Regions from separate parts of the Homo sapiens genome. Here region 2 is linked to region 1. Evidence: fine-mapped expression QTL. A gene starts in region 1. The other region holds a variant in brackets. All regions are shown on one strand. Distances are from middle to middle.

The links. PIP is the estimated chance that this variant, and not a neighbour inherited with it, causes the effect.
Region 2: its variant is fine-mapped to the expression of NUMA1 in whole blood (TOPMed, PIP above 0.99).

What each region holds. Positions count from the first base shown.
Region 1 is chr11:72,075,455-72,084,436 of GRCh38, reverse strand. NUMA1 (nuclear mitotic apparatus protein 1) reads left to right here and starts at 3,895. Exons shown (of 27, transcript NM_006185.4): 1 at 3,895-3,979. It overlaps LRTOMT (leucine rich transmembrane and O-methyltransferase domain containing), which reads right to left and starts at 3,587. Exons shown (of 9, transcript NM_001145310.4): 1 at 3,552-3,587. It overlaps LRRC51 (leucine rich repeat containing 51), which reads right to left and starts at 3,587. Exons shown (of 6, transcript NM_145309.6): 1 at 3,552-3,587. RefSeq lists enhancers at 2,574-3,528, 3,540-3,809, 3,529-4,484.
Region 2 is chr11:71,993,301-72,002,282 of GRCh38, reverse strand. It overlaps RNF121 (ring finger protein 121), which reads right to left. Exons shown (of 9, transcript NM_018320.5): 7 at 7,431-7,564; 8 at 6,732-6,833; 9 at 4,686-6,088. The coding sequence ends at 5,968. It overlaps IL18BP (interleukin 18 binding protein), which reads right to left and starts at 3,374. Exons shown (of 6, transcript NM_001039660.2): 1 at 3,264-3,374; 2 at 2,271-2,356; 3 at 1,726-1,932; 4 at 959-1,082; 5 at 731-878; 6 at 1-499. The coding sequence starts at 2,298. The coding sequence ends at 422. The variant T/G (reference allele first, on the strand shown) is at 3,605.

The sequences.
Region 1 (8,982 bases):
TACTTTAATGTTATTCACTTAATTTATTTAACCAATCCCAAGTTGACAGAAAACTGTTTTCAGTTTTGGGAAATTACTAACATTTGGAATTTGATTTGTTGCTAGCCTATTCCTGCCCTCTCTCAGGCAAGTTGCAACATGATAACACAGGAAGCTTTGAGGAATAATCACATAAATCTGATAGGAGATTCAACAGCCTGGCCCGAGAGTTTCTGATGATGGACTGATGGTGGAAAAAAAATCAAAGGCTGCTATGAAAAATCTGCCACATATTTAGCCAGGCATGGCAGCTCACGCCTATAGTCCCAGCTACTTGGGAAGCTGAGGTAGGAGTATGGCTCAAGCCCAGGAGTTCGAGGCTGCAGTGAGCTATGACTGTGCCACTGCACTCCAGTCTGGGCAACAGAGCGAGACCCTGTCAAAAGAAAAAGAAGAAAAATCTGCCACATAATCTAATATATTCTGGGAGGTTATATTCCCAGGTGCCAAAAGGAGGACCAAGATTCAACCTGGCTCCTGTCCACCCCCCTCTACTACCATCTCATCCTCAACTCCAATTCTGCAGTCTAGCCAAATGCAACCACTCACCATAAGTTCCCTGCACCTGCCACTGGGCCTCTAAGTGGAACAGTGTCTCCTTCCAGCTCTGTCTGCTTGGAATATAGTTTTTCTCTCCTCCTTTTGCTTTGCTAATTCTTATTTCAGGGCTCAGATCAGGTTTCAACTTTTCTGAGAAGTCTACCTTTATCCTCAAATCTGTAATTGTAGTGCTATGATTGCCATGGTAGCACTCGTAACACTGTAATTATCTGCTTACTATCTGTATGTCCATAAACACCAGCAGGGCAGAAACCATATTTTTTCTTACAGTTGTATCTCATAGTGCCGGCAAGTAGTAGGTGCTTAACAAACACATTAAAAATTGCAACTAAATAATACTACAAAGGAGAGGGCCATGAGGTTGCTGTAATTGAGGGATCTGACCTGGTCTGAACAGTCTACAGGAAGACATTCCTGAAGAAGTGACTGAGAGAAATCTAAAGGATAAGTACAAATTAACTTATGGGGTAGGGGGTGGTGTGGAATGAGCATTCCAGGCAGATGTGACTGCTATATGCAAAGGTTCTATGGTGGAAGGGTACTTGGAAATTTTGAAGACCTTAAAGGTTATATAACTGAAGGGGAGAGAAGGATGAATATGTATGGTTAGACTGGAGGCTGGAGAGATGGGAGCAATAGGAAACCACATAGTATTAATATTAAATGGGGGCTGGCTGGGCGTGGCGGCTCACGCCTGTAATCTCAGCACTTTGGGAGGCCAAGGTGGGCAGATCACCTGAGGTCGGGAGTTCGAGACCAGCCTGACCAACATGGAGAAACCCCGTCTCTACTAAAAATATAAAATTAGCCGGGTGTGGTGGCGCATGCCTGTAATCCCAGTTACCTGGGAGGCTGAGACAGGAGAATTGCTTGAAACCGGGAGGTGGAGGTTGCTGTGAGCCGAGATTGCGCCATTGCACTCCAGCCTGGGCAGCAAGAGCGAAACTCTGTCTCAAAAAGAAAAAAAAAAAATTGGGGGTGGGGTAGAGAGTGAACAGTATCAGCTTTGCATTTTGAAGGATCACTCTGGTTGCAGTGCGCAAATATGGCTGGGAGGGAAGGCAGGAAGGATGTGATGGTAGCTAGGACCTATATAAAAGATATTCAGGAAGTAAAGCTGATAAGACTTAGTGATAGATGGGAAATGGAAGAGGTATTAAGTAAATGGAAGAGGTACTAACTTGGGTTTTGGGCTTGGGTATATTGTGGATAAAGGTAGGAGCACTGGAAGAGATCCAGGCTTGGAGGAAAAGGTTGGGATACACAGAGATTGTTTCAATTTCAGAAATGTAGAGTTTGGGTTGCCTTTGAGGTATCCTAAAGGAGATGTTGAGGCAATTGGCTATATAGATCTGGAGCTTAGAGATGAGGGCTGGGCTTGAGATACACACTTGTGTACATTTGCATACAGGTGGAAAATGAAGTTGTGGGTGTGGAGGGGTACCCAAGAAGAGAATATAGAGTGCAGTGGCAAGAGGGCGTAGGACCAAACCTGGGAGAACTTTAAGGTAGTAAGTGGACCAGTCAGGGCCAGCTAGTCACCAGCTAGAAACCAGCTAATCATGGTCACTTCAGACATGGGTGCTGTGTTAGCCCTTCTGTTTCCTGTTTAGTTAAAAATGTTCAAGTCTCATTGTCTTAGTCTCTCTAGTTCCTTTTCCCCATTAAAAGTTTCAGGGGAGGATCTGAAATTCATTCCAGCTGAAGTGTAAATAATACAAAGTAGGCCACACAGGTTCCTTTTCCCTGGGGCAGTTTAACTTGTTCCTTGGAACAAGTCCTTCCGCTATAGAGGCAGTAGGCTGAAGCTAAAGAGACTTAGCTGGAAGTCGGAGAACTGGAGTCTAGTTCTAGCTCTGTCACTAATTTGGTGTGTGGCCTTGGGCAAGTCCCTTTTCTCTGGGTTTCAGTTTTCCAATCTGTGAAATGAAGATAAATATCCTTGACTCACAGAGCTGTTAAGAGTATCAAAAGAGAGACTGTGAAAGCACTGGGTAGGTTACTAAATGTAATAGATCTGTCGTGAGTACTAAAAAAAATGAAGCTCTAACTGTAGAGCTTTGAGTAGCGGACCACGGAGAAGGTGTGGGGAGAAAAGGGAATCTGGGGACAGATTGAGAAGGGGTTTTACTCCTTGGAAGAAGAAGGAATGAGGCACTTCACGCCCCAGGAAGTTTCCTACATCTCTAGAATTAGGGTAGCGACTGCGATTTACTCAATCTAATGCTAACCGCATGTCTTGGAAGAGGGTCTCAGTTCCTCAGAGGAAAACCAACCCCATTTCTGAGGGCGTTTCTGATCTCCCAGGTTATGCCTGGAACTTGAAGCATCCGATTTTGGGAGCTTTATGTTTGCGTTGGGGGCGGGGTTCGTTGTTTTGTTTTGTTTTTGTTTTGTTTCGTTTTGTTTTGTTTTGAGATGGAGGTATCGCTCTATAGCCCAGGCTGGAGTGTAGTTGCGTGATCACGGCTCACTGCAGCTTCAATCTCCGGGCTCAAGCGATCCTTCTACCTCAGCCTCCCTAGTAGCTGGGGCCACTGGAGCGCGCCACCAAGCCCGGCTAATTTTTTTATGTTTTTGGTAGAGACAGGGTTCGCCATGTTTCTCAGGCTGGTCTCGAACTCCTGGCCTTAAGTGGTCCGCCCGCCTTGGTCTCCCAGTGTTGGGATTACAGGCGTGAGCCACCGCTCCCGGCCCTGGGGGTGGTTCTTAAGCATCCCCAAATCTGTATGGATATATATCTCAACGCCTATCCCTCCCTCTGCTCCCCCTCGCCCAGTCTGTCCCATGTGAGTGTTGTATCTTGTTCGCTGTGAAAGGTGATGAGGGTCGGTGGGGGAAATCTCAGATCCCCGAGCAGGAAGGTTCTTAGTCGTTCTGTGAGTGCCCCTCCCTTCTCCATAGATCTCTTGTCCCCTAGAACGGGTTTCCTGTTTTCCCGCCCGACTCACCCGCAGTCGCTTCCTCTCCAGTCTTGGCGTCCCACTGCCTCAGGGTTACTCAGAGCAACTCCATGGCAACTGCTTTCGTCACCACAACCCGGCAGGCGCCATAAGTACTGACGCGATGCTTACCGGGACCTTCAGTTTGTCAGGGGCGGGGCTTCAAGGCCGCGGGTGACGCTGGGATTTGTAGTTCTCTTTGCCTTCAAGTACAGGCCGGGGTCCGGAAGCGGTGATACCCCTTCTCTTTCCCAGTGGCCCTCAAACTTCCTTTTCCCGGGTCCTTAAGCGGGCCCCGCCGACAGAGGCCAATCAGAGGGCAGCGCGAGGGGGCGGGGCCATAGTTTAAACTAATTGTGCGCTCACAGCGCTGGCGCGAGCCCACGAAGAGGTACGATTCCGGAGAATCGCGAGGCAGAGCGGGAGCGCGCAGCCAGGTAACCGGCGCGGGCCCGCGTTTGGCGTGCGGCCTGGGCACCCCTGCGGGTGCTCAGGCCTAAAAGGGGTGCTGGAGAGGCCGCTGCGAGCGGAAGGCCTCCTCCATAACCGAGTCCGAAAGGGCAGAATCTATGGGGGTAAGGTTTGTGAGGAGAGGCGCCTGAGAGGGAGGAGCCGGGGGGGGGGGGGGTGCCTTAAAGGGGAGGGTCTGTTTGGGGGCGTGTCTGTGGAATTAAATCTGAAGGTGACTGGGGTCGGGGGTATAGGGCAAGTTCCCGAAAGGCTTGTAAGCGAGGGGTCGGGTCCTGGAAAGTCTTTGCCTTTTATCGTTAACAATAGCAGTAGTTATGGTAGTGCAGTAGTCAGCATTTTCTGAGCTACACCGTCCACAATGACCTGCCAAATGTTTATCTTTTTAATCTTCTAACCACCTGTTATACTTTAAAGATGGGGAGCCTGAGGTTTATAATGTTTAGCTTGGCCCGGGTTACGTAGCCAGTGCGAGGTTGGCTCTACTTTGGGTTTATGGGTTGGGCATAAATGGGGACGGGGAAGGTGCTTTGTGGGGGCGCGCGTTGTCTTGGACTGGTCAGTGTATTTTGAGCCTCACTTTTCATATATGTAAACAATGACCTTACCTGCCTTACCTACTTCCTGGGGTGGTTGTCCTGGTCAAAACAGGTTAAGTCTTTTTTTTTTTTTTTTTTAATTTTTGTTTGTTTTTGTTTTTCATCCATGGACTCTCACAGATAACATGTTTCATACACGCACCTCGGAGAGTACAAATTTATGACTATAAGTGGTGTGACTGTGTGAAGATTGTGGGTGGGCGGGAGCCCACTGGGTTGATGCTGCCGCCTCTGGGTACTCTCTTTTGCTTACCTCTGAGTTAGCACTTGTCATTTTTTTTTTTTTTTGAGACGGAGTCTCGCCCTATCGCCCAGGCCGGAGTGCAGTGGCGCGATCTCGGCTCACTGCAACCTCTGCCACCCGGGTTCAAACAGTTCCCTGCCTCAGCCTCCCGAGTAGCTGGGATTACAGGCGCCCGCTACCACACCCGGCTAACTTTTGTATTTTTAGTAGACACAGGGTTTCACCATCTTGGCCAGGCCGGTCTTGAACTCTTGACCTCGTGATCCGCCCGCCTCGGCTTCCCAAAGTGCTTGGGATTACAGGCGTGAGCCATCACGCCCGGCCTGCCATCTGGTATTTTAAAAGTCTGCGTGTTTGTCTGCCCTTCTAGATAACGAGAGACTTTTTCGTCACTGTATCCTAATGGCTAGGCAGGATTTGCGACATGTAATGGGAATAAATGTATGCTTTGGAATAATTTCTTGGGCTGAAAGGGCACAGGAATTTCGCTTTCCCGTTTTCATTTAGTGGCATTTGAACCTCAGTATTAAGCTGTCCTCTTTACTGGAATGGCACTCCCTCTTGAAAACGTGATGATATTTTCTTGCTTTAATACATAATTCCCTCTCTCTAGTATCTGTTGCCTGGTTCTATGTTTCCAAACTTCTGGGTTGTCTGGTCGTTAAAGCTTTAATGGTAAGGGAGTTGGGCCTCTCTGCTTTGTGGAGATCTTTACTGCTGTGAATATATGGGAACCTGGGGCGAACATGAGGATCATGTAAGGTAGCTTTCTGTCAGCACAGATGGGTTTATGTTTCCTCAGTCCCTCTTTCTGTGTGGTATTTTCTTCTTTAGAGGAAGAACCACATACTTTTTTGTGAAAGCTTCCAAAGTATTCTTTTCGTAGCCTAAGTTCTAGCAAGGGATGACTAATTGTAATGTCTAAGCTCTTAGTTCACAGCGAAAAGCGGTACATTCCAAAAGCTTAAAGATCTTACCTGAAAGCTCGTTAAGAAACGTAGAATTCTTTTTTACATGTGGAACATGGAAGTGGGAAGAATGCCTTGAAATAAGACTTGAATTCTAGAACTTTTAGGATGAGGGCAAAGCCCTGCTCAGGTGGCTGAACAGAGCTGATCAGGGGCTGTTTGGACAGCTGTGTCTAATTGATAAAACTATGATCAGAAGATATTAGGTTTGTGCAAAAGTAATTGCAGTTATTGCCATTGAAAGTAATGGCAAAAACCACAGTTACTTTTGCATTAACCTAATATATGGTGTGGTCATTTAATTTAGCCTCTTACCCAGTGTACACTAAACATACCAAAAGGTGTTGTCCAGACTCAAAATGAGTACTTTCTAGAATGAGATCATTCCCAAAGTCAATCCATCTCTAAGCTGAACAATTCTAATTGATAATTATTATTTTGTAGCTGGGCATGGTGGCTTGCCCTGTCATCCCAACTACTCTGGAGGCTGAGGCAGGAGGAGCAGGCGGGAGAATGGCTTGAGCCCAGGAGTTCTTAGCTAGCCTGGGCAACAGAGTGAGACCCCAACACAATTAAAATATGTTTATTGTTTTGTATTGTTAGTGATTATTTCATTTTACCCATGTATGTCTACTGTTTGCTTTTTCACTATTTTTCCTTGCATTTTATTCCTTCCTTTTTTATTGCATAGATACATACATCCTTCAGATGTTTGTCCAGTGGGAATCTGTTAGTGGTAAACACTGTCTTCATTTAAAAAATCTTTATTTCACTTTCAGTTTTTTGTTTTTTTTTTTTTTTTGAGATGGAGTCTCACTCTGTTGCCCAGGCTGGAGTGCAGTGGCACAGTCTCGGCTCACTGCAAGCTCCGCCTCCCAGGTTCACACCATTCTCCTGCCTCAGCCTCCCGAGTAGCTGGGACTACAGGCGCCCGCAACCACGCCTGGCTAATTTTTTGTATTTTTAGTAGAGACAGGGTTTCATTGTGTTAGCCATGATGGTCTCGATCCCCTGACCTTGTGATCCTCCCGCCTCGGCCTCTCAGAGTGCTGGGATTATAGGCATGAGCCACTGTGCCCAGCTCACTTTCAGTCTTGATTGGTAGTTTAGCTGGGTACTAGGCTTCCAATTATTGTCTCTTAGCACTTTGAAAGTGTTTTTTCATTGAAATTCTGGCTTTTTGTTGTTACTCTTGAGAACTATGCTTGCAAATTAACTTATTTTATTGTGGGTAACCTGTCTTTCTTTCTGTTTGTTTTTAAGATCTTCTTTGCTGTCATTTGTGTTCTGTACTTCCATTACATGGTGTGAATTTAATTTTCTTAAATCACTATATACTGGGGGCATATAGTAATTCCTTAATCTGAAATTTCATATCTTTTCACTAATTGTGTAAAAATTCCCAATCATTACCTCTTTACCTCTCTCAGATCTCATGCGTAACTTATGTTGAACTTCCTCATTCTGTCGTCTACATCTTATTCTTTCTTTCATAATTTCCATTTCTATCTTTCTGTGTTAACTTCTGGATAATTTCCTTATATCTATCTTCTAGTATACTAGTTTACTCTTCAGCTAGGTCTAATTTGTTTTTTGAATTCTTATTTTTATTAGCTAACTTTTTCATTTATTAGAAGTGCTCTTTGGTTCATTTTCAAATCTGCTTGTTTTTCGTGATCTTGTTTTTGTCTCATGTTTTCAATTTTGTGTCTGTAATAATTTTCAAGAAAGTTGAGTTTTGGCAGATGTCTACACCTGTAAACAGCAGCCATAATCAAGATACAGAGGATTTCTCTCACCCCCAAAAGATTTCTCATGCTTTTTTTTTTTTAAGATGGATTTTACTCTTATTCTCCAGGCTGGAGTCCAGTGGTGCAATCTCGGCTCCCTGCAACCTCTGCCTCCTGGGTTCAAGCGATTCTCCTGCCTCAGCCTCCTGAGTAGCTGGGATTACAGGCATGCACCACCATGCCCAGCTAATTTTGTATTTTTAATAGAAATGGGGTTTCACCATGTTGGTCAGGCTGATCTTGAACTGCCAACCTCAGGTAATCTGCCCTCCTCGGCCTCCCAAAGTGCTGGGATTACAGGCGTGAGCCACCGTGCCCGGCTCTCATACTTCTTTACAGTCCGTTTTTCCTTTCACCCTGATACCAGGAACCACTGATCGTTTGTTTGTTTTTCACTACATATTAATGTCTGCTTCCTAGAATTTTATTTTATTTTATTTTATTTTTTGAGATAGGATCTGTCTGGCTTTGTTGCCCAGGTTGGAGTGCAGTTGCAGGATCTTGGCTCACTGCAACCTCTGCCTCCTGGGCTCAAGCAGTCCGCCCACCTCAGCCTCCCAAGTAGCTGGGACTACAGGTGCACACCACCATACCCGGCAAATTTTTATATTTTCTGTAGAGACAGGGTTTTGCCATGTTGCCCGGGCTGGTCTCGAACTCCTGGGCTCAAGCAATCCACCCACCTCAGCCTCCCAATGTGCTGGGATTACTGGCGTGAGCCACTTCACCCAGCCTGTTTTGAATTCCTAGACGGTTTTTCCCTCCTTTCTCACTAGGTGAGCAAGGCAAGTTTTTTATTTCTCTCTGGACAGATTTTTTTTCCTAGTCTATTATCTTACTGAGTATAAACTTAAGAATCTCAGCCTCTGCACAGGGATCTCAGTGCCTTTTGTGGACTCAAGATCTGTCTTCTGAACCTATGAGGGTGTTACAAATTCCATACACGGCTAGGACAGCTATGTCATCAGCTCGCTAATCCTCCTCACTAATTTGTTTCTGGTTCCTGGGGATTTTTCTTACTTTCTTGAGAGCTCAGTTTATCTATATGTCAGTTCAGATCCAATCAGCAAAACAGAAACCACACAATAGAGTGAACTCCATAAAGGAGATTGATTTAAACCCTTGGTGGAGGGCTGAAAAAGCAGAAAGGGAATATTAAAGTAACTTCAATATAATAACTGCATAAAGAATTTTTCTCATCCAGGACTGAAAAACAAAGGGAGGAAGGTTGGGGCTACCAGAACCTAGAAGTCTAGAGGGATCTGGAATAGCTGTACCCAGATTCTCTGGAGAGGGTGTTACCTGGTGCTGCTGGTTTCTCAGGCCCTTATAGGAGGAACCTGGAGGAGCTGGCTTCTGTTGAGCCTTACT
Region 2 (8,982 bases), 82 kb after region 1:
CGGGACTAAATGAGCAGAGACATGGGAGTGGGAGCTGTCTGGGAAAAGCAAGAATAGTTGGGAGGCTTCCAGAAAGTCATGTGGGAAATGCAGGTAGGGCCCTGGAGTGCAAGGCTAAGGCATCAACAGTCTTGGTGGTTTCTGAGCAGTAGAGCAGTGTGAGGAGTAGGACGTTAGGAAGGCTAATGGATAGGTGGAGAGAGAATGGCAGGAGGAGGAGGCATTATAAGGAGGCTGTGATTTTCTAGGTAGGTGGGAATGGAGTTTGAATTTGGTGAGAGAAGGGACCCAAAGCAGAGAAGGAGGGGGTGTGTTGCGCATCCACGCAGCCTACAGGCAGTCAGGGACTGTTCACTCCAGGTAGACAGGTAGGACCCAAGCTCTGGTCAAGGTTGTGCTGCTGCTGGCCCTGTGCTGAGTCTTAACCCTGCTGCTGTGGACTGCTGTGGCTGGAGGGCAGGGCTTCTTGGGTGGGGGGCAAGGTTGCCCTCAGCCCAGCCTAGGGAAGTGAAGGCAGACAAGGATCAGGCCAAGGAAAGGAGGGACATCTCATCACTTTGCCCCAGGCTACACCTCCTCTGCCCAAGACCTAAGTTCCTTTTTGTCTGGCTGACCTTGAGGAATGCTGGGCATTAGTTCACAGGCTGCTCTGGCAGAGCCCACCCTTTCCTCCCCACATATGGAAGCAGAGCTCCTCCTGTTCCTGGAGGCCTCTCCTTGGGCTCCTCACCCAGAGCTGGGCCAGGACGACGTGACGCTGGACAACCTGTTCAGGGTCCACGAGCACACAGGAGAAGTTGGTGCTGTGCAGGGCAGGGGTCAGCTGCTCCAGCACCAAGGCCTTGCACAGCTGCGTACCTGTGCTCCCACGTTCCCGGCTGGAGCGGAAGGGAAGGAAAGGTCATGAGAAGGCCGCAGAAGGCCTCCTTCCCACCCACCTGGCTGCTGCGACCCTCACCTGGTGCTCCCCTCCCACAGTCGGCCTGGGAGGTGCTCAATGAAGGAACCATTGCCCAGCCAGTAGAGGATGCTGAAGTTGGGGAAGCGGCTGCAGGCCACACAGGATAAGCTCAGCGTTCCATCTAGGGACACAGGCAGCAGTTAGCTCTTCAGAAGAGCAGGCCCTTCCCCTACCCTGCTCTGCTGTGCCCTCCCTGCCAGCTCCCCCCAGTCCCCATGCATCTGGAACCTAGAGAACTGCTCTGCACACCACCTAGGTGGGAACGTCCGTTACAGAAGTGCAGTTGTCTCCGAGAGGCCCTAGCCCTAAACACGGGGAATGTGAGGAATGGTCCTTGGTTCACGTGATGAATCCTCTTCTGAACCTGTCTCCTCAGGATGACCTTTTCTAGTGCCCAGCCTCGGTGACTTGGGAGCCCAGGTGACAAAGGCAGTGCTGGATGGCTGCTGCTCCTCTGAGATGGCCAGAGGCCAGCAGGCTCTGGGTGGAGGGGCTGGCCTTGGGGTCCACTGCAACCAAGGCTCTGGGAGGTCCTGTGACCATTACTTATGTCTTGAGTTCTCTGTCCTATTTGATAGGGAGCATCTTGGGAGCTGCGCCAAGCCTGCACCCATGACACTGGGTTGGGGAGGGAGAATGGTGCGTGCTCAGCCCAGCTGGCTCAGCTGGTGGTACATGGGCAGAAGGGGACTGGCGCTCAGGAGTCAACCCGACCCTGGGAACCTCTGTGCCCATAGCCCACCCTCCACCACTGTGCTTCTTACTCAGTGGCACTTCCACCTCTGGCCAGGTCACTTCCAATGCTGGACACTGCTTAGCTGCTGGGAACACTGGGGGCTGGGAGGGGCAGGGGTCCTTTGTGCTTCTAACTGAGGCAGTGGCAGCTGTGGTGGTCTGCGAGACAGGTGTGGCTCTGACCAGGAGAGTGACGACGTGGGCACACAGGAGCAGGACCCACAAAGGGCTGAGGTCTGAGGAAAGGACAGTTACAGGTCAGCGGCTCTGGAGACAGAGTGGGCTGCCCGGGTAAGGATGTAACTCCAGCCCAGAGATGTCTGGGTTCTAGCCAGGGAATCAGAGCGGGAAGAGGGACCCCTCAGCACCCACCCCTTAGCCCTTTATTGAACAGAGTACAGAGAAGCTTTAGACTGGAGCCAGAGCTACAATATCTGCCCAGGTTCTTAAAGCAACAGCACCAGGTGCGCTGGGTGGTTTGCCTTGGAGTGAAGGCTCCGGGTTAGCCCATTGCTCCATTCTGTTCATAGACCTCACCCTACCCCGCCTGCCCATGCGTAGCCCCAAGGCCTACCTGGTGTCCAGTTGTGTCTCATGGTCATGATGCATGCGTCAGGAGCTGGTGAGCCTGGCTCTTTATCTGTGACAACGTCCTCTTCTCTGGTGAAAGGTGGGGGAGGAGAATGGTAAACCACTCCCGCTTTTTCTCAGTAGCTGGCTTTTCCTCAGTAGCTGGCTTCTCCTCCCGTAGCATAGCCTGGAGCTCTTTCAGCACTTAGAAACAGAGCTGGGGGGGTCAAGTGACAATCCTTCCCCACCCCAGCTCTCATGACCACAAATGGTTGTAAGATGCTTACCTAGTCCAATCTTACCCCTTCATTAGGGAAGGCAAAATTGAGACCCAAAGAGAGAATATGGACTCACCCAGTCACACAGGGAGGCAGTGCTCTCTTCAGCACCAGAGCTGCTTCTGGGAAGGGCAGGATGCCGAGCAATCCTTCTGGGAAAGCACTGCCCCGACCCTCTATTTCACTTTCACTTTTTAACCAGGGAATCTTGAGCAGCTGTGACACCTCTGCTTTAGCCAAAGTTCAGTGGCCAGAAACCTTCAGCTCCTGGGACTCCTACTCTCCAGAGGATACCAGACTGGGATCTCTAATCTACCCCCATGCCACCCCCAGGGTCACCTAGGGTATGAACTAGATGAGTCTCTCACAGATCAATTCTGTCCCGCCCAAGTGTCAGGACTTTGGTGTCCGCCTCCCCTCTTCACAGCCAGGTCTTTGTTTCCATATGAACAGGCATCTGCTTCCTCCTTCACCTTCACACTGACATTCAAGGGGACAACTTTCCTAGGCACTGGGGAACCCCAAGTTGGACCACTTCAGGCTCAATGCCATACCAGTCCGTCCACATCCTGGCCTTTCCCAGGCTACCCACTCCCCCAGCCACCAGCCCCAAGGTCGGCTACATCTCCCAGCACCCACCATCACACCCTCTGTCTCTCATCCTAGCCCCTCTGGCCAGAGCCACAGGTCTAGGTTCACTAGTAGTCCCAGACTCCTACCTGGCTCCTAAGAGGTCCTGAAGAGCCTTCCTTTCCAGAAGCTTCCCTCTAGGAGCTCCAAGACTCAAGTTAGCTGTGTCTAGCTGCGTGTGAACCCACCACAGGAAATACACCGAGAGCACTTCCTCCTTGTCTGTAGAACTCTCACGGCCAACCCAGGAACTGGCACACAAGCTCGAGAGCCAACCCTAACAGGAGGGAAGGGCAGGCACTTCCCGGGGAAGAGGCGGACTGGCTCAACACTGGCTCTGGCAACAGAGTCTACATCAGAATATGAATCTTGTCACTGATGGGACAAATGGCGCTGGGGCTGCGGGAGGGCCAGGATTCAGGGTGAGGCG[T/G]GTGAGGAACCTAGGATGCTAAATCTAAGGAGGTTTTCTCTCAGGGTCATGCAGTTATCCATGGAGGCAGAAAGACCAGGGCTGGGTGATCCAATGCATGCATATATTAAGTGTGGACAGGAGCTGCATGTCTGAGGTTTGTGACTCCTGTGATTGGGAGGGTGCAACGGCTGGTGACAGAGCCAGGGAGGCCCACAGATGGAACTGGGTTTGGTGGATGCATCAGGAACACAGTCAGCTGTGATCTCAAACTTCTTGTAGAAAAACCAGATTCATATTCCTAATTTAGACATAGGATACTACAAGTCACATCCTTCTTCTCTAGGTGTCTAGTTCATGTTTTTCCTCCTCTCAATTCCTCCCCCTACCTCCTGCCCCAGGGGCTTCTAGCATGTAAGATGCAGGAGAAATTCCTCCCAAGAACACCAGCATCTCCAGGAGTTAGGTCAGGAGGCAAGGCTGCCTGGGGTTTCTGAGAGAGACAGTCCAGTGGGGGATGGTAGGGAAAGATGACAGGACTCTGTCTTAGTGGAACCGAGACCAGAGTCAGGCCAAGGGGGGAGGTCAAGGGACTCAGAACTGTTACACATGAAAAGAGCTTTGGACAGCCTGGCCTCGGCTTCTCACCTGAGCCTGACAGGGGGGTGGGGGGAAAAAGTAAAAGGAAGGGTGATCCCTAGGTCCTCTGACCAGCCCCATTCCCCTCTCTGAGGAGGGGAACAGCCCCACAGGTGGCATAAGCAGCAGGGTACCATGGGAAGCCACAGCTGGGGAAGAGAAGCCGAGCCTGAGTGTGGTCCTCAGGAAGGCAGGTGGTGGCGGGACACTGTCCTCAGGCAGTGAGAACATAGAGCAACCTCAGTCTGAAGGCAGGCCCAATGATGCCCCAGGCCCCCAGGCCACAGGACAGGAGCCTGGCATTCCACCACTCCTAGGGATGTCAGCAGGGGAACAGCTGGGAACAGCAGAAAGGCAGGCCCAACCACCCCCAGACCCTCAGGTCTCCGATGGGGGTTAACAAAGGCAAGACACCCCTGGGGACCCCAGGGAAAGAGGTGGGAAGAAGAAAGCAAGATAAATGTTCAGCTTTCCAACCCAGCTCATGGAGCTTTATTCAGACGGGAGTGACAACATCCTGCTTCGTTCTTGCTGCCCTTGAAGGGGCAGGCCCTACTGAGCCATATTCCCTAGAAACCCAATGCCGAAGGCCCATGTTTGACCTCCCACTTTATTCAAGTCGCCTAGGACTAGGGCTGGGGCCTTCCTAGAAGCCCCCTCTCAGAACCTGTTCTCACCCACCCACCACTCCCGTTGTCAGGCCCAGGGAGGACCCATGAATGACAAAAATCATGTAGGGATATTCCCTGGACTGGGAATCCCCTGCCAGCTTCAAGGACATATCATCTGACACAGGGAGAAGCTGACATCTGTCATATTCTTCTGCCTCACGTACACACACACACACACACACACACGCATACGCACTCTTAGGCTTTCAAGAAGGAAGTGATGTGGCAGAGTGACCGCTGGCACGTGTCACCACTCCACTGAAGGATCCACTGAAGAATGAGCTTGCACAAGGGGCCGTCAGTCATGGCTGCCAACAATTGCCCCATGGCCCAACTATATGACCTCTATTCTTGGCTGACCACAGCCCTGCCCACGGGCGAGTATCCATGGTGCTGATTCTTCCAGTTGTCCCAAAACAAATCTTCAATGAATTCTGAGGCCCCAAGGCTTCCCTTGTTGGCCAAGTCACTGATAAGGTTCCACTTGCCTCAACCAGCCTATAGCTCTTGGACAGGGGGAGACAGAGTCAGACGCAACACCTGTCCTGTGTCCCAGACAGTGGGGGAGGGAGGACACCTGGGGCCTCAGTGCTCACCCGTGGCACAAGCCTGAGTACGTTAGCTCTTCTATACTAAGTGCACCAGGCTTGAGCCCCACACAGGGAAGAAGGGAGTGGGTGGGCTGAGGCCTTCAGCTACCTGGGAGCCCAGCAGTGTTCTCGGCCAGAGATGAGAAGGCTCCTTTAAACCAAAAATGTCATGGCTCTGCCCCCACCCTGCTTAGGCAGGGAGGGTGAAGCCTGGAGGGGGGCAATTCCTATGCTCCACAATAAAAAAAGGTTTTTTAAATATATTCATCAAAATAGTTTTCTTTTAAAAAGCCCCCCACTGCTGACAGCCCCACTGGCTGGCTCTCCATCATATCCCTCCCCAGTCCGACACAGCCAGAGGGGTCCTGAGTGGCCCAAGCACCCCTTTGAGTCTTTCCCACCCAGGAGGTCTTTGTGGGCAGGGAGGAGAGTGCCCTGAGGTCCATGGCGTGTGGGGTGGGTTTTCCACTGATGCTCTTCATCACTATTCCAGGCCCAGGATGTAGTTGATGCCTTGGACTACACCAATGATGACAGGCTGCCAGGCTACCAAGTATCGAAGCCAGTCCAGCAGTTGCCCATACATGACGTGAGGCCTCTCCCAGCTGTCAGTGTGTTAAAGAAAAGAGACTCTGTGCAAGAGCTGCCAGGAGTGATCTAGCATGGGTGGTGGGGCTCCCTGGGTCTGCCCCACTTTCCAGCTGCTCCACAGCCTAGAGGAATGGAGGCTGCTTTCTGGAAGGGCCCAGCCTCACTTCCTACTCAGGCAGCCCTCCCAACTTTGCCCTCCCCCTCCTCTTCCTCCTCACAGCCTGTCTGTTGGGGTAAAGAGCTGAATGCAGAGAAGGTGGGAGGCAGATAGAGGGGACTGGTACTGGAGGCAGGGCAGCCCTGAGAGAGGTATAGAGATAAATCCTAGTTCCCCATGACTAACATGCAGGGAGGGCCTCCTGTAACACCTTCTCTAAGAAGGAACTGCCAGTGTAAGATAACACAGCCTGAGGCTGACACAAGTCTATCTATCCGTGACAATGGCTGCAAGGAGGCTGAGAATAGGCAATAATCCTAGAATAGGGAAACTGGGGTTGTATCATGGGGGCAGGACTAGCAGCTCAGCTTCCCACCATGGTTTGACATGTTCTGGTTGGGGGCAGAAGTGAGGGCCCCAGGAGGACCCAAATGCAGGTCACACTGGCCAGTACTTTCTTCCCACAGCCCACTCCCAACAACGACCCCAATAAAGGATACGGATTGCTGAACATCCTCTTGAGGTCTACCTTCTCTTTGCAGTAGGGACACGTTTGCTTCTTTCCCACGATGCACCAGCCACGGATGCAGAACTCGTGGAAGCTGAGCACCGCTGGTCAAGGGAAATGGTGAGAGCCAGGGCGGCACTCCAGCCCCAGACAGTCTTTGAAAGGTTCAAATCCTGCCTTCGCTCTTTATCAGCTCTGTAATGTTGGGCAAGTCCCTGTGTCTGAACCTGTTTCCTCACATGTGAAGTAAGGATAATGATCCCTATCTCACAAGACTGTTATGGGGCAAAATGGAGACAATACATGGCTTTCCCAACATAGGCAGAGAATGGGAGCTGGGTAAATACATGATAAATATTACAAGTGTTATTCAGAACAGAGGATGATGCTAAACTGAGGGATCCCATTAGAGGGTCCTCTTCCCCTGTGACTGGTCAGATCTCAGGTCTGCTAGCACAGCCTCACTAGCTGCAGCCTCAGGTTCCTCTCAGACCCAGCCAGGTTGTAACCACTGTTTACCTAAGAGTGGCTCTGATCTGTGGGAAAGGGTAGGGAAGGTGGCCCTCTTGTGGCTCTCCTACACTCAAGGGTCTGGACAGCATGCCTAGGGTCATGACCACCCTCTTTCTCTCTCTCACTACAGTGTGCAGATTGCAGGAGAGATGTGGCCCAGGAGCTCGAGGCAGGATACACATGATTGCAGGACAGCCTATACGTGTTCTCAATGATCCCCTCTTCACTGACGTCCACAAAGATCTGCTGCCCACACACAGCACACACACTGTCTGAAAGATGTTTGGTAGGCATGCCCGACTCGCTGTAGAACTGAAGGAGAATAGCAGGAAGGAAAGATAGGAAAAGATGTGAGAAGCAGCCAAAGTAGGAAGCTCCACAGAGACCTCAGGCCTTCTAGAGAAGAGGCACAGTGGCAGCGGGAGGCCCAGAGTTAGAGGACATCTTTTTTTTTTTAAACTGTTTAGAAAAGGTAATCTTTTACAAGTCAAATCGACCTCATCTTTGCTGGGCAGATGGGGAGAAGTGACCAGACTAGAGACAGTTGGGAAGTTAGATGTAACAGAACCTATAAACTGGGCTGGATCAGCACCAAAGGATAAGGGGAAGGGGAGGGAGAAGGACTTGGGGCTGGTGATCAAAAGCTGTGTCAGGCAAGCCATTCTGTCGCCAGACTATGGTTCCACCAGAAATGGACAACAATATTCTCCAACATTTAAAACAGTGAAATATTAAGTGCCATGTTGGTTTGGTGACAAGGGCATTCTCAGACATTTGTGGCAGCAGCAAAAGGGGTTCAAGCCTTTCAGATAGGATTTAGCATGGTATCTCAAATTGTTGCACCTTTTGACCCATTAATTTCACTTCAAGGAATTTAAAGAAATAAGAGGAGGCTGGGCGCGGTGGCTGACGCCTGTAACCCCAGCACTTTGGGAGGCCAAGGAGGGCGGATCACGAGGTCAGGAGATCGAGAGCATCCTAACTAACACAGTGAAACCCCGTCTCTACTAAAAATACAAAAAATTAGCCAGGCATGGTGGGGGGCGCCTGTAGTCCCAGCTACTCAGGAGGCTGAGGCAGGAGAATGGCGTGAACCCGGGAGGCAGAGCTTGCAGTGAGCCGAGATCGCACCACTGCACTCCAGCCTGGGCAACAGACCGAGACTCCATCTCAAAAAAAAAAAAAAAAAGAGGAAGTGTCAAAGAAGCTTCATGAATACAGATATTCACTTAAGCATTATCATAATTAAGAAAGCAAAGAGTTTGGCATGTCCTCAAAAAGTTAAACATAAAATTACCAAATGACCAAGCAATTCCATTCTCGGTATAAACCCAAAAGATATGAAACTAGGGACTAAACACACTTAAACGCCAGTGCTCACAGCGTTACTCACAGTAGCCAAAAAGTGGAAACAACTCAAGTGCCTATCCACAGATGAATGAATAAACCAAATGCGGTGTCACACACAATGGAATACTATTCAGCCATATAAAGGAATGATACATTCTATACATGGATGAACTCTGAAAACACTACGCTAAGTGAAAAAAGCCAAAGGGACAAATATTGTATGATTCCATTTACATGAAATATCTACAATAGGCATGTTCACAGAGATGGAAAGTATATTAGAGGTAAACCAGGGCTGTGGGAAGGGGTAATGAGTTACTGCTTAATGGGCAGAGTTTCTGTTTGGGATGAAGAAAAATTTTGGAATTAGACAGTGAAAA